4 linked regions of the Homo sapiens genome follow. The protein of the gene in region 1 interacts with the protein of each later gene in a pairwise test. Each region holds a gene or a part of one and is shown in the gene's direction. Other genes may lie near its edges. The genes, in order: LZTS1, SPDYC, ELOA and TBC1D1.

Evidence for each region.
Region 2: the proteins of LZTS1 (region 1) and SPDYC interact in binary tests that used the Homo sapiens proteins (3 or more experiments, as listed by UniProt).
Region 3: the proteins of LZTS1 (region 1) and ELOA interact in binary tests that used the Homo sapiens proteins (3 or more experiments, as listed by UniProt).
Region 4: the proteins of LZTS1 (region 1) and TBC1D1 interact in binary tests that used the Homo sapiens proteins (3 or more experiments, as listed by UniProt).

The regions. Positions count from the first base shown.
Region 1 is NC_000008.11:20,300,964-20,308,254, reverse strand, and holds the start of LZTS1 (leucine zipper putative tumor suppressor 1), read left to right. Parts: upstream 1-4,291; 5' UTR 4,292-4,515; intron 4,516-7,291. UniProt on the Homo sapiens protein: Involved in the regulation of cell growth. May stabilize the active CDC2-cyclin B1 complex and thereby contribute to the regulation of the cell cycle and the prevention of uncontrolled cell proliferation. May act as a tumor suppressor.
Region 2 is NC_000011.10:65,165,583-65,173,233, forward strand, and holds the start of SPDYC (speedy protein C), read left to right. Parts: upstream 1-4,650; 5' UTR 4,651-4,679; intron 4,680-5,744; 5' UTR 5,745-5,775; coding exon 5,776-5,917; intron 5,918-6,360; coding exon 6,361-6,419; intron 6,420-6,663; coding exon 6,664-6,749; intron 6,750-6,851; coding exon 6,852-7,023; intron 7,024-7,101; coding exon 7,102-7,432; intron 7,433-7,600; coding exon 7,601-7,635; 3' UTR 7,636-7,651. UniProt on the Homo sapiens protein: Promotes progression through the cell cycle via binding and activation of CDK1 and CDK2. Involved in the spindle-assembly checkpoint. Required for recruitment of MAD2L1, BUBR1 and BUB1 to kinetochores.
Region 3 is NC_000001.11:23,753,454-23,760,475, forward strand, and holds part of ELOA (elongin-A), read left to right. Parts: intron 1-646; coding exon 647-802; intron 803-909; coding exon 910-1,007; intron 1,008-2,389; coding exon 2,390-2,570; intron 2,571-2,820; coding exon 2,821-2,932; intron 2,933-3,499; coding exon 3,500-3,672; intron 3,673-6,058; coding exon 6,059-6,120; 3' UTR 6,121-7,022. UniProt on the Homo sapiens protein: SIII, also known as elongin, is a general transcription elongation factor that increases the RNA polymerase II transcription elongation past template-encoded arresting sites.
Region 4 is NC_000004.12:37,894,062-37,901,083, forward strand, and holds part of TBC1D1 (TBC1 domain family member 1), read left to right. Parts: intron 1-7,022. UniProt on the Homo sapiens protein: May act as a GTPase-activating protein for Rab family protein(s). May play a role in the cell cycle and differentiation of various tissues.

The DNA.
Region 1 (7,291 bases):
TTAGCCGGGCGTGGTGGTGGGCGCCTGTAGTCCCAGCTACTCGGGAGGCTGAGGCAGGAGAATGGCATGAACCCGGGAGGCGGAGCTTGCAGTGAGCCGAGATGGCACCACTGCACTCCAGTCTGGGCGACAGAGCGAGACTCCGTCTCAAAAAAAATAAAAAATAAATAAATAAATTTAAAGAAAAAAGAGATGGTCCTTCCAATTCAGAGACAAGTCTCCTGAAGCCCAGAGATAAGAGATTCAAGGTGGTCAGAGACCTACAGGTAAGGAATGAAAATTCTTGTTATAAAAGTTGCACATTCAAAGCAACTCCACGGGAACTGTTTTCTACCCTGGAAAAAGACAGGGATGGTAAGACATCTTCTAAGGTCATGGGACCATTGGCTCTGACTGCAGAAAAACTGCTCTCCCTGGACCTTTACTGGGGTCACTGGGAAATCAGGAGTGGCCTCAGTTGATTCCTTAAAGCTTTGCTCAGTTGTCTAGGCTCATATTTTTTCACCGGCTTTTGGAGATTATCCAACCTCACTTAAATATAGTCAGCATTTCTTTTCTCTTAACACAAGGCCCTGGATTTTGAGACTTGAAATAATATTAAAAAATTATTTGATATTTTGTATTTTTCATAACACCTTTGACTTTATTAATTCTTTTCATTTTGTATTGTTGCCAAAAGATAGATAGGGAAAATGTTATTAGGCTTCTTTCACTGATAGCAAACTAAACCTCCAAAGGGTTGTGAGAAGACTGCAGATTGGAAGAAGTAGGAATACACGTGGATTTTCTGAATTTGAGTCAATTTATCTCTCTGAAACATCATCTCGCCTCCCTCCCCTCATAGCACTCATTCTAGTATTTTTTGAGCGCTTGCTTTGTACCAATAATGTGCTGAGTTCTGTGGATTCAATGTTGACTAAGACAGACATGATCTTTGAACAAGAAACTTGCAGAAGAGATGAACAGACAAACAAGAAGCCAGGGAATTAATTAAATTGTGATAGGTGACAGTACCTTGAGGAAGGCAGAGTTGTCTGTAATCCAAACAAGCTGCTGGCTTAACTGGTCTATGGGTCTGGTCCAGTGTGGCCAATCTTAGGTCCTAGAGATGAAGCATGATGCTCTGTATCTCAGGTGATGAATACAGGAGGAGGGTAGGAGATTTTTACAAGAAATGTTTTGTGACCCAGCTTTCTAGACTCGACTCAGGCAAGGGAGAGCCTGAGGGATGCAGAGTTTCACATAAGACACCTCTCGGGAACCCAGACACTAAGGAAGGGCAGCGCCCCTTCACTAGACAAGGAAGAAAAGGAGCCACACTGAGAACCTACCGGTGGTGTTGGGGGTAGACACACCCAGCCATTGCATTACCATACCCAACTGCTGAATCAGGGAGCTAATTATGGCTTTGTGCTGCTGGAGACCACATTCCTGAGGCTTTCATGCACACATACGGAACCATAATACATACACACATGCTGTGCTGTCCATCACTGGTCTCCTTCTCCACTCTGCCTTCTCATTTCCAGCCCCACTCTCTATGCATTCTGTCTCTAAAGTATCCCTTCCACAGGGTGTTTCTGTTGTTCCATAGGGTATCCCATTTCCACCGCTCATACACAAACCAACACACTGCTCATACCCTTTGCCTGACTCAGTCATTCCAGGAAGGCTGCACATCATACCCAGCTTTCACCTAGAATGTCACTGACAAAGGTGTCAGTGCTGAAGGAGGGTCCTTAAGGAGTATCTTCTCATCCAAACCATCCACTTTCCAGATGAGGAAACTGAGGCCTCATCAGGGACTCCAAACCATCCACTTTCCAGATAGGAAACTGAGGTCTCATCAGGGACTCCAAACCATCCACTTTCCAGATGAGGAAACTGAGGCCTCATTAGGGACATGGCTTGTCCAAGAGCATATAGTCAGCAGTAGGGCCAGAACAAAAAGTGGGCTTCCAGAGTCCTTTGTCTCTTCCATGGAATCTCACCTCCGACGATGTGAAAATGAGTTTGAAGTCTGGAGCCCACCTCATACCTTAATCTACCTTCCAGGAGTCTGCTCTTTCCTTAAAGCGCTGGAATGTTTGATCGATATTAACTCATTCAGCTAAAATTCTTGAGATACTCTCACCAGCAAGCAAGAATACATGTTCTCTGTCAATAAATGCAACACAAAGAAGCATGGCGCTTTAGAAAAAGAAGACATTATTTTGCCCTGGACGATAAGAGAAGGTGTGAGTAAGGGTTCCATATTTTGTCTCAGATTTTGAGAGGTAGAGTTAGAAGAGCAGGAGAAAAGCTTTTCAGACTGAGGGGCAGGTTTATACAAAGGTGGGGAAAAGGAGGTGATGTTCAGGAAAAGGCTGAGTAGCCTTTGGGGTTGACACTTAGAAATTGTCGTATTGCTTGTAATTACTGCCACGTGTATGTACTTACCGCAAGGCAGTGGGTTTCATTTAATCATCAGAACAAACCTATACATGAGAAATTCATTCATTTAACAAATACATATTGAGTGCCTACTATGTTGCCTGGCAAGTTCTAGGTGTCGGGGATACATCTATGAATAAAACAGACCAAGTCCCTCAGCCACCAATAAAAGAGAACAAGTTCCTGCCTTCAGGGAATTTACACTGGGACTTGTTACCTCATTTCACAAATAAAAAAAGAAAGAAAGAAAAAGAAAAACTGAGAAAGAGGGAGGGGAAGGTAATGGCTCAAATAACAAGCAGCGAAGCCTGTCTGTGTTCTTAAACCCTCGCGGTGCCATCTTTCAGGAAGCCTAGATTCGAAGGTCAGAGTCTTCAGGGTCAACAACCGAAGGCAGTGAGATTCCCCTACAGGGTTTTGAGCAGGGGTGTGGCAGAAACCATATGGCTTGTTTTCCTTTGAGCTGTCCCCCCTGCCACCACAATTCTATTTAATTTTTTTGTATTTATTTATTTATTTATTTATTTTGAGACACGGTGTCACTCTGTCACCCAGGCTGGAGTGCAGTGGCACTATCTTGGCTCACTGCAACCTCTGCCTTCCAGGCTCAAGCAATTCCCAAGCCTCAGCCTCCCAAGTAGCTGGGATTACAGGCTCCTGCCACCACACCCAGCTAATTTTTGTATTTTTTTTTTTTTTTTTTTTTAGTAGAGACGGGGTTTCACCATGTTGGCCAGGCTGGTCTTCAACTCCTGACCTCAAGTGATCCACCAACCTCGGCCTCCCAAAGTGCTGAGATTACAGGCATGAGCCACCGCGTCCGGCCCCCATGCTATTTATAATCAGATCGGCTATGTCAATCCTAATCCATTACATCTATCCCCCACCCCCCAACACACACACACACACACACACACACACACACACACACACACAGGCTTCTTTCAAGATGAGGCTAACACTCCTTGGGCAGAGCTGCCATCTTCCCGCCAAGCCTGGTTTTAGAGGATTAGCCTCAGTGCACCCTCAAGCCCCCAAGCCTCATGCTGCACCTAGCACTCCGGTTAACTGACCCTTTGTCCTACAAAACCTTGTAAGCTTGAATCCTCTCCTGGCTCAGTTGCTAGAAGTTAAAAGTGAGGGTGGTTGAGAAAATGATAGTATTATAAGGGGACTGGGTGAGACTAATAGCTATAAACTTGAAACAGGCCTCTGCTGTCACCTGAAACTCAGCTCCCTCAGAGCTGGAAAAGTTTGCTTTTGACATGTTTTGGGAGTGGGAGTCCCGGTGCTCTGGACTCTAGCCTGTAATCCTGGTGTGGTTCGCAATGCCCCTCACTTGGGTGCTAGTCCAGTCCTTGAACAAAACACACGCCCTTTAGTGCGAGTCGGGAGCGGGAGAGACGGTATTAAGAAAAATAAACTGGCGATTAAGAGGAAGGGGTAATGAAGAAAGGGGAACATACACAGAACGGGAGAAGGAATGGATTTTAAACAAAACTGGAGTAAGAATTTCAGGTAATGAAAGGGAAAAAAGGATGCGACAAGAGCAAGACAGGAACAATCGGAGAAAGGGGGCCAGGCAAGAAAGGAAGACTGAGGGGGCAGGGTCGCCCAATGGGGCTGATGGAAGTGAGAGCAGAGAGACGGGACCCGGGACCCCGCGCAGGCCGCGGGCGCGAAGGAGCCGCGAGGTCGCGAGCAGCCCCAGCTGTCAGCCCGGAACAAAGGCCGCCGAGCGGCACAGACCAGGCTGCCGGCAGCTCGCTGCCAATCAGCGGCGCCGGCTCTGGCCCCGCCCCGGGCCGGCCCCGCCCCGCCCCGCCCCGCCCCGCCCCGCCCCGGCTCCGGGACCCGCGCAGAGGCCGGCGCGCCTGGAGCTGGCGGGTTGGCAGCGGCCGGGCGGGGAGGCCGAAAGTTTCTCTGCCCGCCTCGGCCAGTGAGTGGGAGCCGGGAGCTGCATCCCGCGCAGTGGGACCGGCCCGGCCCGCTCAGCAGCTCTGGAAAAAGAGAGACGGGAACACACCGGGAAACACTGGGAAAAAAAAAAAGTCTCAAGTGCGCCCGAGGCGCAGGGGGCAGGTAAGGTGCGGTGGCCGGGGATCTCCTCGCCCCTGGAGGGTCTGCTGCCCTGGCTGCGGGAAACCGCTTTCCCCTCGCCGGGCCGGACCGTCCGTGCGTCCGCGCGTCCGTCGGTCTTTGTCTGTCTGTGTCCGTGGCTGTCGAGGTGTCTTTGTCTCCGCGTGGAGCTGTCAGGGTCTCCCCTCTGCAGGGTGGGCGCCGCTTCTCCGGCCCGGCCCAGAGGAGGTGACTGTGCGTCTGTCCTCCTGTCTTTGTCTTCGTGTCTCCTGCAGACGGGGTTCGTCTATTCCCAGCACCGATGCTGATCCTGGCGGGGACGTCAGTGTTAGGTGACACTGGTGTCGGAGGTGAAGAAGTGGGAGGTGGGGACGCGAGGCCGCAGGAGCAGGGGCCGCAGGAAGAGGGTCCGGCGGTCGGTCCGGGCCGCTGAACTTCGCCGCCTGGAACTTTGCAGATGAGCTGTGTCCACACCGGTGGGGAGGACACCGGTGCGTTGCAGCCAGAGATTTGAAAGGTTTCCCTCAAGGAATAAGTCACACGGGCGGAGGTGGTTAGAGAGGAAGGTGGTAAATCGAAGTGTCTAAGTGGCTCCCTGGGGCTGCAGCTTCCTGGGGTCGGTCCTGGATGTGCAATTCAGGAATTTAGTCAAAGCACCATGCACACACAGACAGCCCCACACTACCTTCACTTCTTCCACCGCCACCCTAGGCAGCCAGACCTCACCCCTCCACCCTGCCACAGGCTTTGCTCTGGCTGGAGGGGCTTCAGAGGTCGCAGCTTGGCAGCAACAGGCATCCCCGAGACACCAAGGGCCAGGTGATGTCTCTTTTTCGTGCTCCAAGTGGAAAGGTTTGAACTGTGGAGCAAATGAGCCTTGTGCTCGCCCACGAGTATGTCAGGCCTGGGAAAGTGCTCCAGACTTGTTAGCTTCGCAGTCTTCAATTTCCCAGGAATAAGAAGTGCTTAGGGATCTGGCCTCCTAAAGTGTTTCCTGTCTCACTTATTCCCTCCACACCGTCCCGCTGCCATCAGCCCCTCTACTCTCTGGTCCCGGGCGCTGGGAAAGTACTGAGGAGGCACTGAGTTCTGGACCATGCCGGGCAGGCGCTGCTCCTAATAAGGATCCCACACTCTGCTGGAAGTGCAGCCTAATAGGAATGCTGGGAGCCCAGGAGCCCAGCCACAAAGAGATGAGCTATCTGCTTGGCAGTTCCTGCACCAAGACCCTGAGAAGAGTCTGCGGGTACCGGCAAGAGGGTGTTTGCAACCTGAGCTTTCTCTAAGTTCAAAAACAATTTTCTGCAGGCATCCAGAGGGAGAATGGAGGTGCCCGAAGAGTGTGCGCATATGGGTATTAGAGATAGCATGTACAGACGGGAAAGGTGTTTGTGTTTAAGAGTGGAGTGGAACATAGTCTGTGGGTAGAAGTCTGTGGGCAGAGAGCATGCAGGCTAATCAGGCGTGGCGTTACACCTTGTATTTATCCAGCGCTTTTCTTTGGAGGCTCTTTCTGCTCATCATAGACGTTATCTCATACGTTATCTCCTTTATCCTCACAACATAACTACCAGGTTGGTGCGGTGGGCTCTCTGTGCCTGCCAGTGAAGAAACGGAGGCGTCAGAAGGGAAAGGCTTTCCCTAAGGTCCCACAGCTAATAGGATGGAGCAACTGGGAGTCCTAGTAAGAGGTCTCAGCTGGGTGGATGTGAGTGTGGGGCGCTCACTCTGCTTAAGAAGAGAAGAAAACTAGTAGAAAAAGAACGGGCATCTCTGTGGGTGTCTATATGCAAGCAAAAGGGAGGGCGGGACATTTGATGTGCTGAAGATGGTTGTTAGTTAACATTTATAGCAGCGGCTGTGTGCTTCACGAGGTAAACCTGTCTCAGCAGTTCAGCTTGTGCATTTGTGTATCTGCAGGAGGTGCCCCCAGCTGTGTGTGCCTGGGTCGATGTGGGGCAGGGGTGCTGTCATAGAAGGAGTGCTGCTGCGTGGGGTGCCCTGGGGAAAGCCAATGCTTTGGGAGTGTGTGAGGGAAAGATGTGCCTTTCAGTTTTGAGAAGCCGTGGGTCAGCGTGTATAGCAAAGCTATACATGGGCTCCAGACGTATATAAATGGCTTTCTAATCCTGAAAACTTATTTATATGCCTTTGCGCTTATTCAACGTTCATTTCATAAATATTCATTGGGCGCCTACCAAATGCAAGGCTCTGAGCTGTGCAGCGAGGCTAGGAAGATGAATAATGTAATGATGACAGACCTATGGGTAAGCACCTTATAGACCAGTGTAATGGATAATACCGTAACACTTAATGCCAGCCACTAAATCCACTGTGTGCCTGGAACTTTTTATTCATTATCTCATTTAATTTTCACTGCAGCCCTGCGGGGTATGTATAATTATTAGATGAGGAGAGTTAAGTAATTTAGCCAGGCTACAAAACCGAGGGGCAGGGATTTGAGATCAGCTTAGTAAGGTTCTGGACCCTGGCTCTGTCCATGTTATTCTGCTACCTTTGAACATAGAAACACTGTTTCTTCTGCATGGAATATTCCTGCCTGGTCTCTCTACCTTCTCCACTTAACTGGCTCCCACTTTTTTTTTTTTTTTTTTTTTTTTTGAGACGGAGTCTTGCTCTGTCGCCCAGGCTGGAGTGCAGTGGTGCGATCTTGGCTCACCGCAACCTCCACCTCCTGGGTTCAAGCAGTTCTCCTGCCTCACCCTCACAAGTAGCTGGGACTATAGGCGCCTGCCACCACGCCTGGCTAATCTTTTAT
Region 2 (7,651 bases), on another chromosome or scaffold:
CAAAGTTCAGATGGTTTAGAAGCTTTTTATTTGTTTGTTTCGGTGTGGGGGTGGGTAGGGTTTTGTGTTCTCCCATTGCTTGGTTCTCTTCGGACCCTCAATTTCTCCCTTCTGCATTTTCCCACTTCACTTACTCAATTGCCCACGGATGCTTCTGGCCCATTTTAGCCCTTTTTTTTTTTTTTTTACCCCTCCCGCGGAATCAGTGGACTTTAACGACCTCCCCTTCCTATCGCACATACTTGTAAGCCCCTTCCCTGAGGTCTGAGCTCTGACTTCCCAGGACGTCTTCTTGGTATTTTCAGATTTTAGAATGTCGCAGTCTTTCTGATAGTTGCTCTCGACCAACCCCAGCCCGGATCGATACTCCTTTCTCCCCTCCTTCCCCAGCTTTTCTTGGCACAAAGCCTCGTGCCTGGGAGAGGCCGCAGCGCACGACGGCGTGCGGGGATATGGTCGCTTTCTTTTTATTTACATTTATCTTGAAGTTTGGACCTTCTCTGCTTTCAAGTTATGCCGACGCTGTGGTTTTGGCAGCGTTTTATTTTTCCTTTCTTGTTGTCTGGGGCTGTGTGGACAGCAAAAGTTGGCGGATGGGGACCCAGGCAGCCCCTTGGGCCTCAGGACCCGGAAGTCCCCCTGGCTGGCTTGTGACTTTTTAAGATGGAGTTCAGTTCATCAGCGTGACAGCTTTTCTTATTTTCTAACACGCGCGTTTGAGGTCATAAATTCCTCTCTAAGAATTACTAGTTGTGTCCTCCAACTTTGACAGACAATATTTTCTTTCTTTCTTTTTCTTTTTCTTTTTCTTTTTTTTTTTTTTTTTTTTTTTTTTTTTTTTTTTTGAGACGGAGTCTTGCTCTGTTACCCAGGCTGGAGCAGTGGCGCGACCTCCGCTCACTGCAACCTCCGCCTCCCGGGTTCACGCCATTCTCTTGCCTCACCCACCTGAGTAGTTGGGACTACAGGCGCCCGCCACCACGCCCGGCTTTTTGTATTTTCAGTAGAAACGGGGTTTCACTATGTTGGCCAGACTGGTCGCTAACTCCTGACCTTGTGATCCGCCTGCTTCGGCCTCCCAAAGTGCTGGGATTATCGGCGTGAGCCACCTCGCCCGGGTACATTTGATTAATTTTTAGGAAGATGTTCTGTGCGTGCTTTCCTGCCTTTGTTGGGTGCAGTGCCAGCTTATTCGTCCACTAGGTCAAATTTCTTCATCATATTCTTCATATCTTTTACTGCTTTGCTAACTTTTTTGCCTTGCATGTGCCATCATATCTACAATTATGATTGTGATTTGTTTTTCCGTGTGGTTCTGTTGATTTTACACACACACACACACAGACACACACACATGCGGTTTCTTGCTTATTGACTTTATTTTTAGGAGTAAACAAATTACTATATATTTTTTTCTTTACCTGGATTCTGGTTAGGTAATTATACACTTTTTTTTCTTCCTTCCTTCCCTCCCTCCCTTCTTTCTTTCTTCTCCTTCCTTTTTCCTTTTATTTTTCTCTTCCTGCCTCTTTCCTTTCCTTTATTTTCCCTCCCCTCCTTCCCCTCCTCTTCTTACCGACAGGATCTCCCTATGTTGCCCAGACCAGCACTACAGGTGCACACCACCACATCCGGCTGTATATTTTTAAAATCACTACATAAATTCTCTTTCTCCCTAGTTATGCTTTTTGTCCAAAGTTGTGTTTTTTTGTTTGTTTTTTGTTTTTTTTTTTTTTTGAGACAAGTTCTCACTCTGTCACCCAGGCTGGAGTGCAGTGGTACAATCTTGGCTCACCAAAACCTCTGCCTTCTAGGCTCAAGCGATTCTCCTGCCACAGCCTCCCAAGTAGCTGGGATTACAGGCATTCGCCACTACCACCCACCTAATTTTTGTATTTTTAGTAGAAATGGAATTTCACCATGTTGGCCAGGCTGGTCTTGAACTCCTGACCTCAAATGATCTACCTGCCTCGGCCTCCCAACGTGCTGGGATTACAGGCATAAGCCACCGCGCCCGGCCTAAAGTTGTTTTAATATATTAGTGTAGTTATCCCAGCTTTCTTTTAGTAATTGCATATTATTTTTTCTATCTTTATATTTTGAAATTTTTAATATTCTTATTTATTTATTTATTCATGTTTTAGAGACAGGGTCTTGCTGTGTCACCCAGGCTGGGTAGAATGGCATGATAATAGCTCACTGCAGCCTTGAACTCCTGGGCTCAAGTGATCCTCCCACCTCAGCCTCTTGAGTAGATAGGACTGCAGTCACGTGCCACCATGCCAGGCTAGTTTATTTTTGGTAGAGATGGGGCCTTGATGTATTGCCCAGGTTAGTCTCTAACTCCTGAACTCAAATGATCCTCCTGTCTCGGCCTCCAAAAAGTGCTGAGATTATAGGCGTGAGCCAATGGACCTGGCCATATATATATTTTTTGAGCTGGTAGTATGTTATTATGTTTTATGTGTATTCTTTTATATCCTTTTACGTGTATCCTTTATAGCATGCAATATTAATATATGATTTTACAAATTATATATACATTTACATGAATATAAATTTTATAAATAGTATATTAGTTAGCATAGAATAAATTTTGCTGTGATAATTGTAGCAGGCAGAATAATGGACTCCCAAAGATGGCTACATTTCACTTCCCAGACCTGAGAATATGTTATCTCACATGGCAAAAAAGACTTTGCAGATGGTTAAGGATCTTTTTTTGAGACCAAGTCTTGCTCTGTTGCCCAGACTGGAGTGCAATGGCATGATCTCAGCTCACTGCAACCTCCACCCCCAGGGCTCAAGCAATTCTCCTGCCTCAGCCTCCCGAGTAGTTAGGATTACAGGCATGCACCACCATGCCCCGCTAATTTTTGTATTTTTAGTAGAGGAGGGGTTTTGCCATGTTTACCAGGCTGGTCTTGAACTCCTGACCTCAGGTGATCTGCTCTCCTCTGCCTCCCACAATGCTGGGATTACAGGGGTAAGCCACCTCTCCCAGCCAAGTTAAGGATCTTGAGATGGGGAGATTATCTGGGCAGATTGAAGAGCCCAGTGAATCATGGGATTCTGAAAAGTGAAAGAGAAAGGCTGGGCATGGTGGCTCATGCCTGTAATCCCAGCATTCTGGGAGGCCAAGGCGGGTGGATCATGAGGTCAGGAGAACAAAACAAAACAAAAAAATTGCCAGGCATGGCGGCACATGCCTGTAGTCCCAGCTACTCGGGAGGCTGAGGCAGGAGAATTGCTTGAGCCCTGGAGGTGGAAGTTGCAGGGAGCCGGGATTGGGCCACTGCACTCCGGCCTGGGCAACACAGCGAGACTCCGTCTCAAAAAAAAAAAAAAAAAAAGTAAAAACAAATATTCTCCCCAGTGTGGGAGATCGGTGTCAGATCTCCAGGGGTGGCACTGAAGGAAATCAGCCTGAAGGCCCTCCCAAAGTTAAAGTGACTAGCCCACTCCCAGGCTTCTTTTTGGTACACCTTCCTGATCTCTAACCTTAATTACTGGGGGAGGAGGAGAACAGTTGAAAACACAGCTGGTCTAGGAGATTCATTCGGTTTCATGGAACACCTTCTCTGTGCAGGCAGCGTCCAGGAACAGCTGTAGACCACACAGCCAGGCTACCCAGCGTGTGGGCCCAGCAGCCAGGCTGGAACTCTATCTCTACTTACCAGCTGAGTGGCTGGCAGGAAGTTACTCAGCCTGTCGGTCAGCAACCCAAACTCTGTGTGTTAGTTGTTTGTTCGCTGACAAAATGAGGCTTCTCATCATTCTCATCAACTTCACGGGCTTGCTGTGAGGAACACGTGAGCTGATTCCATCACAGACTCCTCAGTAGGCAGCAGTAGGTGTTTAGTGAACGGGCTATGGATGCTGCCCCACTCACTACTTCCTTTCTAGGGGAGGCCGACTTCAAATGCGTGCACACACACAAACAGGATGGCCTGATGCAGACCAGCTGGTCTAGAAAGGCCTTCACGGCCTCAGGGAGCCTGGGAGGCGGCCTGGGGGAGACCATGAAACAGCAGATACACCAGAGACCAGAGATCAGAGAGAAAACAAAGGACCCAGAGATCCACAGACATCCAGACACCAGAGGCAACAAGAAACTGAGAGACTCAGAGGCCCACTGAGACCCAGGCAGCTTGTTCTGTGTTACGAGGGGAAAAATAAAATAAGAAACAAAAGAGAGACTCGGGGGGCCTCAGTGAAACCTAGAGACTCAAGGAGGCCAGGAGATTCAGAGACACCCATAGAGAGCCAGAGACCCTGCCCTAGCAAGGCACAATCAATGAAAAAAAACTCGCCCACCAGGCCCTCGCAGTCCGGGTCTCATATCCCGGCTCAGCACCTTGGCGCTGCATTTGTCAAGAGGGGAACAGGGATCCTAGCTCCCTGCCTGTCCTATGGGGCCTTAGGCCCTGGGGTCCAGCTGGCCTGCCTTCACCCCTCTTGTAGTTGATGAAGCTTTGGAGAGGCTTTCAAACCCTGGGGAGCCACAGCTGGGTGCCGACTGGACTCACTGGCAGAGAGGCAGGCGGTGAAGGCCAAGCCTCGCCCCCCAGGAAGGCCCTGATTGGTGGACGGGCTGCTTTGGGCAGGGCCGCCCTCAGGCTATATAAGCGCACTCGCGGCGGCGTTGGTGTTATGCTCTGGGCCATTCCTGAGCTCGGGTAAGGCTCGCTGCAGGAGGAGGCTGGGTTGCTTGCGGGCGCCTAGATGGAGGGGCCCAGATTGGCCCTGGGGTGGTCGACCGCACGTTCTCCTCGGCCCCGTGGTTGGCTTCTCTCTCTCAGGGATGAGGGTGGGTTTAGGACGGGAGCTTGAAATGTTTGAAGTGGCCCCATCAACTTGCTCTAAATCCAGGTATTTTTCTAATTTCATTCCTCCCTGAGGGCCTCAGTTTCCCCTCGGTGTAAGGGATCAGTGGCCCTTTCAACTCTGCTTTGGTGAGGGGTCGGGGGTGGTTGTGAGTTGGGGCCTAGAGGAGCAGTTAAACTCTTGGGTTTTTTTTTTCTTTTTTTTTGGCCAGGCGCAGTGGCTCACGCCTGCAATCCCAGCACTTTGGGAGGTCAGGAGTGTGAGACCAGCCTGGCCAACACGGTGAAACCCTGTCTCTACCAAAAAAATACAAAAAAAATTAGCCGGGCGTGGTGGCATGGCGCATGCCTGTAATCCCAGCTACTCGGGAGGCTCAGGCTGGAGAATCAGTTGAACCCGGGAGGCGGAGGTTGCAGTGAGCCGAGATCGCGCCACTGCACTCCAGTCTGGGCGACAGAGAGAGACTGTGTCTCAAAACAAACAAACAAAAACCAAAAAACCTCTTGGGGTTTTGGAGACCAAGGGCTTCACTTTTAACCGGCTGTTAGGCCTCAGCTTCAGTTTCCTCGTTTGACGACCGGTCTGAGTTAAACTTACCTCCTTACCAGGATGGAATAAGATAAGGCCCTTAAGCACAGCCCCAGGCACTTAGGAAGCCCTCAGCGGTGCTTGTTGCTGCTGTTACTCTGGCCTGTCCTGGGGTGCCAGGAGGAGGGTGAGGGTGCCACACCCTCACCTATAGCAACTCTTTGCTTCTTTTCTGGCCTCCCCACTCTTGTTGCATCCCGGCTGCCTTCTGTTCTGAGCCCCCAAGTCTCTGCACCCACCCCTCCACCGTCCTGGCCCCTGTCACCACCCTCTTGATTTGTGAGCATCACGGGGGTACATGCTAAGTCCTGAGCCTCCTTTCTCTACAGGTCACCCTGCCCCATCTCCATCTCCTATGAGATGAGTGACTCCCAAGACCCCACCACTTCCCCTGTAGTTACCACCCAGGTAGAGCTGGGGGGCTGCAGCCGGCAAGGTGGGGGCAATGGGTTCCTCCGTTTTCGCCAGCACCAGGAGGTCCAGGCCTTCCTCAGCCTTCTGGGTGAGTTTGGAGGGCTGGCACGGGAGGGGCCGTGAGGTCAAGTGTGAAAGCAGATGTGAAGTGTGGGGTCTCACCTGCCTGTACAGACATCTGAGACCTCTGACCCTCTCCCTCTCAGGTATCCCAGCTTAGGCAGGTGGGAGGGGTGTCCTCTCAGAAACTGGATTCAGGGCCAGGCACCGTGAGTCATACCTATAATCCCAACATTTTGGGAGGCTGAAATGGGAGTATCACTTCAGGCCAGGAGTTCAAGACCAGCCTGGTCAACATAGTGAGACTCCATTTCTATTTATATTAAGAAAGAGAGAGAGAAAGAGAAAAAGGGAGAAAAAGAGAAAGAGAGAGAGGGTTCAGTGGTGGCTTGGGCTTTGGAGCTTCTGATGCCACTCTTCTCCATGGAGGTGGTGGTAACCTGCGTCCTGTCATGTCTTCTCTACCCTCAGAGGACAGTTTTGTCCAGGAATTCCTCTCCAAAGACCCCTGCTTCCAGATTTCAGATAAGGTGAGGGAGTACAGGCTGGGGGTCTCTTGAGGGTCAGGTTGAGTTGGTGGGAATTGAGTGCCCTGGTCTGGTAGGGAGAGCCACTCACCTTCCATCCTTACCCCCTCATCTTTGCACACCACTTCCCACCATTTTACTGACTTTCTTTCCCTGCAGCAAAACCTCCCTGGGTGCAAATGAACCTGGGTGCAAGCCCCTCCTCCTCAGAGAATAACTAACCCCCCACCCCGATCTGTCTCTGCAGTATCTCCTGGCCATGGTGCTGGTCTACTTCCAGCGCGCCCACCTGAAGCTCAGCGAGTATACCCACAGCAGCCTGTTCTTGGCCCTGTGAGTGGTGGGGGCAGGCAGTGGAGGCATTTGCTGGAGGTGTCAGATGGGACAGGGCAGATGTGTGGCCTCTGCTCCCTGACCTTGTGCCTCTGTGGCTAGGTACCTTGCAAACGACATGGAGGAGGACCTGGAGGGCCCCAAATGTGAGATTTTTCCATGGGCCCTGGGAAAAGATTGGTGTTTACGAGTGGGGAAATTCCTGCACCAGAGGGATAAGCTTTGGGCACGGATGGGTTTCCGGGCTGTTGTGAGCCGCCAGTGCTGTGAGGAGGTGAGGCTGGGAGGCAACCTGGGGTGTGGGGAAGGCTGGGGTTCCCACCCCATTTACTGTCCACTCTGCTCCTCCCAGGTCATGGCAAAGGAGCCATTCCACTGGGCTTGGACTCGGGACCGGCGCCCCCACCATGGTGGGGTTCAGAGGGTCTGTCCACAGGTCCCTGTTCGCCTTCCCCGGGGCCCTGGCCTCTCGCCGCCCCACTGTTCCCCCTGTGGTTTGCCCCAGCACTGCAGCAGCCACTTGCTTAAGCCTGTGTCATCCAAGTGCCCTTCTCTGACCTCTGAATGTCATCGCCCTCCCTCCCAAAATTATCTCTCAAGGGTCAAAAACGCCTGGGGTGGGGACTTTCTCATCGTCTTGCCTCCCCAGATGCAACTGGAACCAGGCACCTACTCCCTCCGCAGTGAGTGCAGGATGGGACAGGAGCTGGGGGCTGGTGTGGGAGCTTGGGAGGCAGGAGTGAGGACCAACAATATGAGAGAGAGGGCCATGGGCCTGGGGTCGACGTGCTGCCCCTCCCGTGTGAGCTTGGCAGGTTTCTTCTCTGAGCCTCACTCTTTCCTCTCCCCAGTCTTCCCAAAGCCTCCGGCACGCCCTGGGCACTGAAGCTCTGCAGGGTGAA
Region 3 (7,022 bases), on another chromosome or scaffold:
TATGTGTTACATAGGATTTTTGTCTGAAAGAAAAAAATGTCTAATTTTCATAGCAAAAGAAGTAGAAGCCACATAAGGGTCTATCAGCAGGAGACTAACAGATAAATCATGGTTCATCTACACAGTGGCATCCTATGCCACAGTAAAAAAAAAATGTGGAAAGTCTATGCACTGACATGGAATGATCTCTCAGATGTGGCAAATGAAAAAAAGCAATGTATGTAGTGAGTATGTTATTAATTGATTCATTGGCTTAAAAGGAATAAGATACATTTGCTTTTTTTTGTTGTTGCTGTTGAGAGTCTTGCTGTGTTACTCAGGCTGGAGTGCAGTAGCTCCATCTTGGCTCACTGCAGCCTCCACCTCCTAGGTTCAAGCAATTCCTCTGCCTCAGCCTCCTGAGTAGCTGGGACTACAGGTGCATGTTGGGCAGGCTGATCTCGAACTCTTGACCTCAGATGATTCATGTGCCTTGGCCTCCTAAAGTGCTGGGATTACAGGAGCTTATTTTTAAATTCTCTGGAAGGATCTACAAAAATCTGTAGCGTGGATTGCCATTGGGAAAGGGAAGTAGGAGGCTGAAGGGGGTAGAAGGAGAGTTTTCACTGGATCACTTAGGGCCTTTTGTGTTTTTCTTGCCCTATAGCGTTCTCTTCACCCCAGGAAGAAGAAGAAGCTGGATTTACTGGGCGCAGAATGAATTCCAAGATGCAGGTGTATTCTGGTTCCAAGTGTGCCTATCTCCCTAAAATGATGACCTTGCACCAGCAATGCATCCGAGTACTTAAAAACAACATCGATTGTAAGTCACACGCTTCTCTCTAGCTCTCAAGCACATTGTAGCACTTGGACCTTATCACTGGGTGGCTTGGCTGCTACTCAGTGTCTTCACCTTTGGTTTCTCTGCAGCAATCTTTGAAGTGGGAGGAGTCCCATACTCTGTTCTTGAACCCGTTTTGGAGAGGTGTACACCTGATCAGCTGTATCGCATAGAGGAATACAATCATGTGAGTATTCTGTTTGGGTGGGAAGAGGGCAGTTTTCTGGCTTGTACCTCCAGAAATAGCTTTGTCCCTGTGACTCCGCTGTGGCTGAAGGGCAGATCAGTGGTCAGAGCATTGTTCTGGATATATTTGGTTTGCCACTGGGCCTTTAAACAAGCATGTTATTAGCACTTGCTCCTGGCACCTTAAGTGGGCCTCTTGGGCTAGGATCAGGGTGGGATTCAAAGGGAGAAGAAAAACACTTAACATCTCCCTTGAGCTTGCCTAGTCATGAAGGTAAAGGGAGAATTCTGGCAGCAGAGTAGCTGGGACCCAGGGCGGGGAAAGCACTTTGTGTTGACACTCTGACATCTGGTGATTGGCTGGATGTCTCTTAAGAAACATCAAGATTTATCCAGAATCCTCCTTAGGATGTAGGGTATACACATTTGATTGCATCAGCTGTCTCTCTTTAATTCTGAAAGTTCTATGACCTAACACCTTTTTTTTTTTTTTTGGAGATAGGGTCTACCTCTGTTGCTTCGACTGCAGTACAGAGGCCTAATCATGGCTTACTGCATCCTTGAACTCCTGGGCTTAAGTGATCCTCCCAAGTAGCTGGGACTACAGGCACATACCACCACAGCTGGCTAATATTTTTATTTTTTAGAGAGATGGACTCTCAGACTCTTGGCCTCCTGAAGTGCTGGGATTACAGGCATGAGCCAACGCGCCTGGCCAATAACTTAACATCCTTCTTAGGTTGCCCCTTTGCCATCACAGTTCAGCGTAGTGTTGGGAAGTACCTGATTTGACTTGATCGCAGTTCTACCCTTTGCTGATTTTCTAAAGGAAAAGACTGATGTTACACAGATTTTTGTGATATTCTGTCACAGCCACCAAAAGCAACTAGCATAGTGCCTCACACTTCGCATTTTTAAAATTTAGGGAGTTATTTTTTTCCTAGAATTGTGGTATTTTAACATACTACTAAGATGAAGACCAAAAAATTTTTGGGAAACTGGTCACTCCTAGGTAATTAAATAATCAGAAAAAGATATGAGGCTGGGCATGGTGACACACGCCTGTAATCCCAGCACTCTGGGAGGCCAAGGTGGGCGGATTATCTGAGGTCAGGAGTTCGAGACCAGCCTGGACAACATGGCAAAACCCCATCTCTACTGAAAATATAAAATAGCTGGGCGTGGTGGTAAGCACCTGTAGTCCTGGCTACTTGAGAGGCTGAGGCGTGAGAATCGCTTGAACCCAGGAGGCAAGGGTTGCAGTGAACCAAAATTGCACCACTGCACTGCAGTCTACACGACAGAGCAAGACTCTGTCTCAAAAAAAAAAAAAAAATATGGAAAAGTGCTTGTACACAAATGATGTCCTGGTTCTGGTTTCAGGTATTAATTGAAGAAACAGATCAATTATGGAAAGTTCATTGTCACCGAGACTTTAAGGAAGAAAGACCCGAAGAGTATGAGTCGTGGCGAGAGATGTACCTGCGGCTTCAGGACGCCCGAGAGCAGCGGCTACGAGTACTAACAAAGAATATCCAGTTCGCACATGCCAATAAGCCCAAAGGTAACAGAGACGGGAGAGCTGGGGGAGAACTGGCAGGATGAGTGTTCTGGTCAATAGCAGGGTGTTGGTGGGCTTGGCTGGTGTAGGACTGCTTGCCCCTACATCAGGTAGCAGGGTGGGTATTTCTTCTGCCACCGCCCATTCTACCCTACAAGTGGGGTTTCAGGGCACTCAAAAAGCCCGTGGATTATTTAAATAACAGTAGCATCTCTGCTCAAGAAGGCAGATGTTCATCTCCATAATTCCACAGGCCGACAAGCAAAGATGGCCTTTGTCAACTCTGTGGCCAAGCCACCTCGTGACGTCCGGAGGAGGCAGGAAAAGTTTGGAACGGGAGGAGCAGCTGTCCCTGAGAAAATCAAGTAAGATCTGTGTTCTTACCTGGCTTTTGTGTGCTATCAACCCTTAGAGGTAGCCATAGCGGCAGGAAGCAAATTGCTTTTGGTGAAAGTGAGGCAGTGCAGACTGTGGGCTCTGGAGGCAGACCTCATCAGCTCAGCACTTCCCTCACCTCCCTCAGCCTCCGCTTCTTGGACTGCAGTGCAAGGTGATAATTACCCCTGCCCTAGGGTAGTCAAGATTAAATGGAGAGCAAAGCCTGGCTTATGGGAAACATTCCCTTATGCTTTCCCTTTTCCCATCTAAACAAAAAACACATTTCTGCAATGATTGTTATTTTGTCTAAGCCACATTAGCCTTTTCAAAATACAGATTTATACCAAAACAGTGAAAAGTTAGTTGAGATTATCATTTTTTCTGAAAGGATAATGGAGACATCTCTGAGCCACCACCAGAATCCAGGGTGATAGGGTCCATTGGTCAAAGCCACAAACAGGGTGAGTCATCCTCACACAGGCCAGCTTCAGGCTGTTCATGCTCAGGGCAGATTTCTTGTGCTCATGCCTAACCAGTGTTGTCCTGTGTTGCAGGATCAAGCCAGCCCCGTACCCCATGGGAAGCAGCCATGCTTCCGCCAGTAGCATCAGCTTTAACCCCAGCCCTGAGGAGCCGGCCTATGATGGCCCAAGCACCAGCAGTGCCCACTTGGCACCAGTGGTCAGCAGCACTGTTTCCTATGATCCTAGGAAACCCACTGTGAAGAGTAAGTAACTTGGAGTTCCTGCTCAAATATTATTTCAGCACTAGTTTTTAACTCTCAATGTCATTATTCACTGTATTACATTTTGTGGACTGCATGTTGCATGTACATGATGCCTTGCACATAGCTGGTCTGAATGTCAGTCCCTCCTTCCCCCTGCTTTGTCCATAGTGCATTATATCTCTTAAATAGTTATAGTGAGTCTGGGTGCAGTGGCTCATGCCTGTAATCCCAGCACTTTGGCAGGCTGAGGCAGGAGGATCCCTTGAATCCAGGAGTTCAAGACCAGCCTGGACAACATAATGAGACCCTCTACAAAAAATTAAAAAATAGGGCATAGTGGTACACACCTGTAGTCCCACCTACTCAGGAGACTGAGGTGGGAGGATTTTTTGAGATGGAGTCTCGCTCTGTCACCCAGGCTGGAGTGCAGTGGCACAATCTCAGCTCACTGCAAGCTCTGCCTTCCAGGTTCATGCCATTCTCCTGCCTCAGCCTCCCAAGTAGCTAGAACTACAGGTGCCCACCACCATGCCCACCTAATTTTTTCTATTTTTTAGTAGAGACGGGGTTTCACCATGTTAGCCAGGATGGTCTCGATCTCCTGACCTCGCGATCTGCCCGCCTTGGCCTCCCAAGTGCTGGGATTACAGGCGTGAGCCACTGTGCCCGGCCGACCCTGTCTCTGGAAAAAAAAAAAAAAAAAAAGTGAAAGTAGAAAATAGTATCTGGCCAGGCATGGTCCCTGTCTCTATTAAAAATAGAAAAATTAGCCCACCATGGTGGCATGTGCCTATAATCTCAGGTACTCGGGTGGCTGAGACAGGAGAATTGCTTGAACCTGGCAGGCAGAGGTTGCAGTGAGCTGGGATTGTGCCACTGCCCTCCAGCCTGGATGACAGAGTGAGACACTGTCTCTAAATAAATAAATAAATATCATTGTGAATGACCATTTTGGCACTCTTCTTTTTTCACCTAAATATAAACTGACTTCTCTAGGCAATACCACAGTGTTCATAATTACTAATATTAACAGCTAAATGACAGGCCCTCTTACTGTTTTTTTATAGTCTTATAACTCTAGCTTCCAAATATTTATTCTTTATATCTAATTGGGTCTTCCAATTTATTTATTTATTTTTTTTTTTTTTTTTTTTTTTTTTTTTTTGGAGACAGAGTCTCACTCTGTCGCCTGGGCTGGAGTACAGTGGCGTGATCTCGGCTCACTGCAACCTCCACCTCCCAGGTTCAAGCGATTCTCCTGCCTCAGCCTCCCAAGTAGCTGGGATTACAGGTGCCCGCCACTAAGCCCAGCTAATTTTTTGTATTTTTAGTAGACACGGGGTTTCACCATGTTGGCCAGGCTGGTCTCGAACCCCTGACCTTGTGATTCGCCCGCCTCAGCCTCCCAAAGTCCTGGGATTACCAGCGTGAACCACCATGCCTGGCCGGGTCTTCCAAATATTTATTCTTTATATCTAGTTGCGTCTATTTTGTATTTTGTTAACTTTATTACCATAGACTATCCCCAGTATCCTAAGGGGATGTCCTAACTTAAGTCTTATTCTGTATTAATTGCAGGGCCCATGGGAGGGTGGGAGTCCTGGCTTGAGCTACAGCTATGCTCAGATGAACCATTCAGGAGGCAGGCTGGCCTTCCTTAGGCAGTACTTGCATAGCCACCTTAGACCTGTTTCTACACTGGACAGATTGGGGGTAGACGTGCTGTTTACTGGTTTGGCTATTTGTGAGGCAAAGTTAAGTTATGACTGAGTATGGCCTTTAGAGTCTGGCAAGGGCCGGGGCACAGTGGTTCACACACACCTGTAATCCCAGCACTTTGGGAGGCTGGGGTAGGAGGGTGCTTGAGCCCAGGAGATCGAGACCAGCCTGAGCAACATAGTGAGACCCTGACTCTACAGAAAATAAAAAAAAATTAGCCAGGCATGGTGGCACACTCCTGTAGTCTCAGCTACTCTGGAGTCTAGGAGGTAGAGGCTACAGTGTGCTGTGATTGTGCCAATGCACCCTAGCCAGGGTGACAGAGTGAGACTCTTTCCTTACAAAAATAAAAACAAGAAAGTCTGACAGAGATTGAATTGTAATTCTGTACCTTACTGTACAACCATGGGCAAGTTGGCCAGGCTCTCTGAGCCTTGGTGCAGGTGGTTAGAGAGAGTGGTGGTCATGCCCCTGGCAGGTCCTCCGAAAGTGTCTGCTCTGTGCTGTTGCTTTTATTGCATTGTGAACAGAGGAGATAGTTACTACTTGTATCTCTGCCTGGTGGTGCACAGCCAAGAATAGCAGAGCTGGCTTTGACTGTAAACTACTGGGGGTGTGTCTAAGCCGCCACAGATCTGAGACAGCTGCCTTGTTTCTCTTTTCACAGAAATTGCCCCAATGATGGCCAAGACAATTAAAGCTTTCAAGAACAGATTCTCCCGACGATAAACTGAGGACTTGCCTTGGAAATGGAATCTGGGGAGGCAGGAATACAAGGACAGTGGGGGTTGGGGAATGGAATTCTACAGGAGACTGGAGTCTTGCTTTGTGGATCCTTTTGGTCTCCGAGTCCTGCAGTCTGCAGGTGCTGCCCCTGGGAACCTGCGTGCCACAGCCCCGCCTCCCTGCCTGGAGCACACTTTAGAATTCTGAAGATGTGAAGCCTCTGTCTCACTGAGGATTTTAAAGGTCAATTATACTTTTGTTGTTCATTAGCATCTTTGTAAACTATAAGACGTAGTTTTAATTAATAAATATTGCCCCCAGATTGTATTTATATTATCCCCCAGGTTTGTTTTTGTTTTTTGTCCTCTACCACACATTTAGCCTTTTATCTTCCAGGTCCTTATTAAAATCAGATGAAAGCCTAGTGAAAGCCAGTCTCCTGCCCCAGCTCAGCTCTGTGTGGACTCTGGTCCAGACAGAGGACTGGGCATCTCCAGAGCCTGCACAGTACCTGCTGCACGTAGGGCAAGGAATGAGCACTAGACCGCCTGTCCCCAAGGGAGCCTCAGTGGGGCGACAGGGTGCTCGGCGGACTCCACCTCAGGCCCTCCCCACTGTTGCTGTGCATTCCTGTGCAGGTGCATCTCTTTCTTACTAACTGGTATTTATTAAGGGAGGTGCTCTGTAGGTCTGGAGCCTTTCCCTCATCCTTTTTGCGAGTCCCCACCTTTTTGTTTTTTTTTTTTTCTTTGAGGCTCACTAGAGGACGCAGAACCTTGGGAGATTGATTTGCACAGAACTCCCCACCTCCCACTTTTACAATTTCCAGTTTCTGATTGAAAATTTTAGGGTTTCTCCCCACTGCCCTTCCCTATCTTTCCTTCCCCTCAACACCATGAAGGAAA
Region 4 (7,022 bases), on another chromosome or scaffold:
CACTGCAACCTCCGCCTCCTGGGTTCAAGTGATTCTCCTGCCTCAGCCTCCCAAGTAGCTGGGACTACAGGCGTGCTCTACCACGGCCGGCTAAATTTTGTGTTTTTAGTAGAGGCGAGGTTTCACCATCTTGGCCAGGCTGGTCTTGAACTCCCGACCTTGTGATCCACCCGCCTTGGCCTCCCAAAGTGCTGGGATTACAGGTGTGAGCCACGGCGCCCGACCAGTTTTTGACATTTCTAAGCCAAAAGTTCCATTTGATGAGGTCTTAGATGCAGGGGCAATGTGTCCCTTTTCAGATTTCAGATGTTTAGAAAAAGATGTGTCATATTTGGGCCAACTGAAAAACTCTTGATATGTAGGTTTTTATGAAGCTGTGCAGAATGTAGGAAATACATTTTAGAACCAACAAAGAGGCATTTAATTTTGAGTGTGCCTGTCTCCTTTGAGATGAGCAACAGCTATTTTTCTCTTCAAAAGACAATGCGTGTATTTATCAGCACATTTTATATAATCAGCAAATCTAAACCTCTGAATTAGGTAAGCCCTATAGGTTTGTTGCCAGAATTAGTGAATTTATACATGCAAAGTGCTTAGAACAGTGCCTGGTACACAGTGAGCACTCAATATTATTTATTGCTATTATTATGTTTATTTATTTTATACTTTTAGAGTATAATTTTGATGTTAGGTTTGGATTGCTGAGGCCAAGCAAAATTTAGATAGACCAACCCAGCTAATCCACTAGAAAGATATTTGAGGGTTATTCCCATCTAAAGATCTATGGGATCTTTGGATATCATCTGTGAGAAACAACAGAAGTTTGTAGATAAGACAGATATAGATTCAAATGCCACCTTCACAATTTATTAGTGAGGGAACCCTTTGGTAAAATGAGCATGACAAAACCTACTTCTCAGCTTTGTGAACGTACAGAAGATCATGAATGTAAAATGTCCATGAAGTGGTAGGTGGTCAACAGATATTGCTCTAGCAAAGTGGTTAAGAGCAAGCAAACTCTGGAGCCAAAGGGCCTGGGTTCAAATCCCGATTCTGCCACTTCTTATAGTATGGCCTTGGGCAGGTGACCTCACTTTTCTGTGCCACTATTCAATGATAATATTCCTTTATTGTCCAACGTTTTGTAAGTTAAATCAGTTAATAAACACACTATGATAATGTGTTGGTAACTATTCTTTTTACTTTTAGCAGAATAACTTAAAGGAACACTGCAGGTAGGAGGGTTATACATAATCTCTGAGGGCCAGCTAGGACACTCGCCCATTTCCCACCCTTTTTCCTGTGCAATGAAGAGTATAAGAAGTGACAGTGCCATTCTAAAGGACTAGCCTTGAGTTGGCTCTAATTTATATGACTCGTGCCTGTAATCCCAGCACTTTGGGAGGCCGAGGCTGGCAGATCACTTGAGGTCAGGAGTTGGAGACCAGCCTGGCAAACATGACGAAATCTCATCTCTACCAAAAATACAAAGATCAGCCGGGCATGGTAGCACACACCTGTAATCCCAGCTTCTGGGGAGGCTGAGGCAGAAGAATTGTTTGAACCCAGGGGGCGGAGGATGCAGTGAGCTGAGATCACGCCACTGCACTACAGCCTGGGTGACAGAGTGAGATTCTGTCTCAAATAATAATAATAATTTATATGAGAAAGAAGTCATTCAAAAGCATCATTACTTTACATGTCAAATTAGAAAGGCACACCCCAGTACTAAAGCATCCTTGATGATGAAAACATTTAGAACCACTGGTTTCAGGAGCTCCATGCAATGGTGAAACAGCCTCTACTCCAAGGGTTGTTGCTCCCTGTGGGATTCCTGGGTGAGGAACACACTGCTCCCGTTGGGGTGGAATCCTGTGGAGGAAGTGGATGAAGAGTGTAGCCAAGTCAGTGAGCCTACTGCATGGGATTAGAGTACTTCAGGTTGCAGTATAATTCTGTTCAGGTGCATGCTCACTCCATCTGGCGTAAAGAACAGAGAAATTAAACCATTGATTCACAGAGCAATATGAGTAGCTGCCTGGGGACTTCCTGTCCATTCTGGGGTCCCCAACAGCCAATCAATATTGGCCGGTTCCTAATCTGACCTAGAGCTAGAGGCCACTAGCACCCCTCCATTCATCCTTTCTTCTCTCCCTACCCACTCCCACCAGCATTCTGAGGAGGTGAGGGCTGAAGCTGCAGAGGCTGTTGTACTGTCAGTTACTGTAAAGTCCCCATCCTGCTCTCTGTAGTTTGCTGTGAAGGAGTGGAGGGGGCTGGGAACAAAGGGGGTTCCCAATAAGCAGCTTACTAATACCTACCCTTGCTTCTCTCACTTCCTGATCAATAATTCCCATCCTTTCTTCATGTACCTCCCCCACATTTTTGTTCTTTAAGGGAAGAAGGGAGCAGCTTTCCATCCCCACACAATGTTGGGGACATTTGGTATTATACATTATGAAAATAAGATTTACCAGATTTTAGAGATGGAAGAAAACTTGGGGATGATCTTGTTCCATTCTCTTATAAGAACAAACAATATTTGGAGAAGCTGAGTAACTTGCTTTTTCAACTTCACACTTGAAAGTGTTTTCATGAGGAAGTTGGGGTTCTCTGCAGCACTTGGATGGGAGTCAGGGACTTGGATTGTCCCAATTCTGTCACTAAATTTGGACAAGCCACTTAACTTTTCCAGAATCTAGTTGCCTCATTTCAAATATTAGGGAAATTTCTAAATGGCTTAAAAGGAGCTTGTTAGCTTTAAAATTTTATGATTCTAAGTGTATGCTGCCAGAGATATGTAGCATAGCAGGACACATTAACAAGATTATTGAAACTGTTCTAATAAAGGACATCTTTGTGTCTTGGGTAGCTACTATGTTTAAAGACTGTGCTAGGTGGGAGTTGTGCAGAATACACAGGTTTGCTGTAGAGGGATAGGGCGTGTACACAGACAACTCTACTAACAAGAACGTTACTAGAAGCTTATTGGAATCACAGTATTTCTTGCTGAGGGTATGAAACATAAGAGTTCTCCTTGGAATATGAGGTTCTATTTGGGGCTTAAAGAATGGTCAAAGGTTGAGTGCAAATAACATGGATTGAGATGGCTTTAAAAAATAATCAAATGGTTTGTTAGTATTAAACTGGTGCAGAAATAATTGCAGTTTTTGCCATTCCTTTTAATGGCAAAAATTGCAGTTACTTTTAAACCAAATCCCTAATATTATTTGCATAGTTTATCTCTGTTATGGAAGTTTTTATTGACAAGTAATGTAGATATTCACCTGATCTAAGTTACCCTGAATCTTATATTAGCAGAATCTGAATTGCTTATAAATAATTATGGCTATGTTGGATGTAGAACTTATTATTTGATAGTTTATGAACAGTGCTAAGGTCTAATCTACTTTTTACAGAGAAGCTAAGAACATGCTACAGCTGGTTGAAAAACAAAAACTTCAGGCATTGAAATGTTTTGTCAATGAAATGGCAGGACTCATTTGATGACTGATTATTATCAACTGATTTAAATGACTGAATTTTTGGTACTGTGTACATCTATACTCTAAGAAGGAAATTGAAAGTAATTCTGCTATGCTTGTTGCCACTATATTAATAACTGCATCATCTAAAATAATTGATAGAGCTCAGATTTATCCTTTGTAATAATTCTAGTACTTCTTTAAACATGTTTTGGGATTAGCAGCTGTCAACAGTTAGAACATGAAACAGATTCTGTTACAGGAGTAGAAGTCGATCCAGACATTTAATGTCATTTTCACCTGTGAGAGAGAGAATAAAGAGAAAGAGAGATCATTATTTATGGGATTATGTGAACTTCAAGTCCGTTTTCATTATTAGGAGAAGCTGTGCTTTAAAGGACAGTCAGGGACTTTACTTTCATGAAATGCCTGAGCTGTAAATAAAGTATTGCTTTATTTTTTATTTCTTGAACATTTGAAATAAAAAATTAGCTATGAGTTATGTTCAAATTATATTATAAAAATTTGCTCTTAGCATTGTGCATATATATTATACAGAAAAACACAGAGTAAAAAGAATAGACTTCAGTTCCTGTTCAGAAAAGGTTTAAAATTTGAATACTGATTTTGGAAACCCCAAACCTTAAGAATTCAAGAAGCTTACGGTCTTCTTGAGGGACACCTATTCAAACTCTTAAATATGGTGATTGGGTAGAAAGTGCAGAAAAGCCTGCTGATACATGCCCTAAAACACCTTGGAAAAAAGAGGTGGTAGTTGCTTGAGGTAGGACTTAAGTACTAGTTGGAAATAGAAGACAAGGATGGAGACTGTTGGTAGATGACTCTCCATGGGTCCTTCCTGTTTCTACACACCTTGTAAGCAGGGCATTGAGTGCCTGTGTTCCAAACTACCTTTTCCATCATGTTTCTACAGCAAACAGTCATGGAAGATAGAAATAGAGTCTTCCTCTGGAGCAAAGGGCAGACACGCTTGCTTCCTGTACTTCCCACTATAAGATATTCCGGCTCCCTAAACTCAGCTGCCTTTCCTGTAACCCACCATGATACAGATGTCACCTGACCTGTGGGAATTGGGGGTCAGGGAACCAAGAGAAATGCTGACTGTCTGGCTACTGTGACTGCCCTGAGTAATAAATTGTCCTTCGTCTCCAACCCAGGAGTCTCATGTTTTCTACCAGCAGGATAACTGTGGCGGGCTAACGTGTTAGTTTGCAAGTAAGGTAAAATCTCAGACCCTTTGCAGTTTGTGGCAGGGATTATATTCTGAGGAGAGAGGAACCGTATGCACCATGGCTCAGAGGCATGAGAAACGGGGAACCATAACTAGTTCTCTATCTTCAGAGCCTTTAAAAGGTGCACCAAGGAGGGCATTTTAGGGGAGAATATAAAGTTGGAGATATAGACACAGCCAGATTCCTGAGAGACCTTATATGCCAGGTAGAAGACTTCAGATTGTATGGGGGAATTATTAGAGAATTTTTAGCAGGGGTGTGATATGATAAATTTTGTGTTGATTAAGTTACTCCAGGAAATATGCGATGGGTGGATTGAAGGATGGGGCACCTTTTCTCTAGGACGAAAAAGAAAGAGTAGTTGGTGAAGTCAGTTAGAGGTAGTAATAGGATGAAGAAGGGATCTGAATGACCCCTTGGCCATTCAGTGAGTAGTGATGCTATTCACCTAGATACAGCACATAGGAGGGAAAAGAAATTCTGGGAAGGAGGGAGATGAGACCGAGTTAGCTTTAAAATAACTAAATTCAGGCCTAGGAGCCTATAGGCTATCCAGATAGAAATATTTAATGGCCTATATGGATCTGGAACTCAGGAAGGAGGCTTCCGTGGGAGCAGAACACTTGGGCACCATTAGGGTGTATGTGGTAGATGCATTCTTGTGCAGCAGTCAAGGGGATGGGATTTAGACTCAAGTGCAAATTGCCCCCCATCTCCTGTGATAAGTGACTGAAGCTCTCCGGGCTTCAGTTTCCTAGTTCATCATAGTGGGCTCTAGCGGATAAATGTTACAAAGGTTAAATGAGACAACATAGGCAAAGTGCGTGGTACTCAATAGAAGTCAGCTGCTGTCATCAGCAGCAGGATCACCAGAATGTGGTGCTTGACACCAAAAGATTAGGTGAGATTGCCCAAAACAGCAGGTGAAATGAGGGGAGAGGATGAAGTCAAACACAGGAAGAAAAGCCTTTGAAGTATGTGGAAAGAAACAACCAGAAAGGTAAGATAAGAACCAGAAGAGATTCAAGAAGGAAGGTGTGGCCGGGCGCGGTGGCTCAAGCCTGTAATCCCAGCACTTTGGGAGGCCGAGGCGGGCGGAACACGAGGTCAGGAGATCGAGACCATCCTGGCTAACACGGTGAAACCCCGTCTGTACTAAAGATACAAAAGAATTAGCCGGGCGCGGTGGCAGGCGCCTGTAGTCCCAGCTACTCGGGAGGCTGACGCGGGAGAATGGCGCGAACCCGGGAGGCGGAGCTTGCAGTGAGCCGAGATCGCGCCACTGCACTCCAGCCTGGGCGACAGAGCGAGGAGCCGTCTCAAAAAAAAAAGAAAAAAAAAAAAAAGTAAGGAAGGTGTGGCCAAGATTGAGAAATTCGTCAGAGCAAACAAGGCAGTCAGGGGCTAAATAGCCTCCTTTAAATTTTACAACCTTGAGGACCTCGGCAACTTTAACAGAATTTCAGTGGATCCCTAGGGCAAACCAGGCCTTACAAACCAGGAATGGATGGTCAATAGGAAGTGGAGACAGTAAGTGTAGACCTTACCTTGGAGGGAAGGAAGAGAAAGAGCCATGGCCAAGGGAAGTTTGAAATCAAAGGAAATATCTTTTTTTTTTTTTTTCGATTGGAGAGACCTCAGTTATTCTTTTAAAATACTTATTGAGCCCCTCAGTTATTCTTTTAAAATACGTATTGAGTCCCTACTTTGAGTCAGGCACTATGGCAGACACGAGGGAGATAGCAGTGAATCAGACAGATGCAACGCCTGCCTTCATGGAGTTTCACCTTAGCATCTGTCCATATGCTAGGGGAGTGGGGCAGGGGCAGGGAGCTGGATACAGGAGAGACTGAAGATCCAGGGAGCAAGTGAGTAAAGAATAGGGCTTGAGATCCCACAGACAACTCAGCTTTGAACAAAAGGGTTTTGTCATCCAATAGGACAAGAAGGCGTTAGGATACATCAAACGTGGTTGTTGAAAACAGAAAAGGGCTGGGCACTGTGGCTCATGCCTATAATCCCAGCACTTTGGGAGGCCAAGGTGGGCAGATCACTTGAGGCCAGGAGTTCGAGACCAGCCTGGCCAACATGGTGAAACCCCATCTCTACTAAAAATACAAAAATTAGCCAGGTGTGGTGGTGCATGCCTGTAATCCCAGCTACTTGGAAGGCTGAGGCAGGAGAATTGCTTGAACCCAGGGGGTGGAGGTTGCAGTGAGCCACGATCGTGCCACTGCACTCCAGCCCGGGCAACAGAGCGAGACTCTGTCTCAAAAAAAAAAAA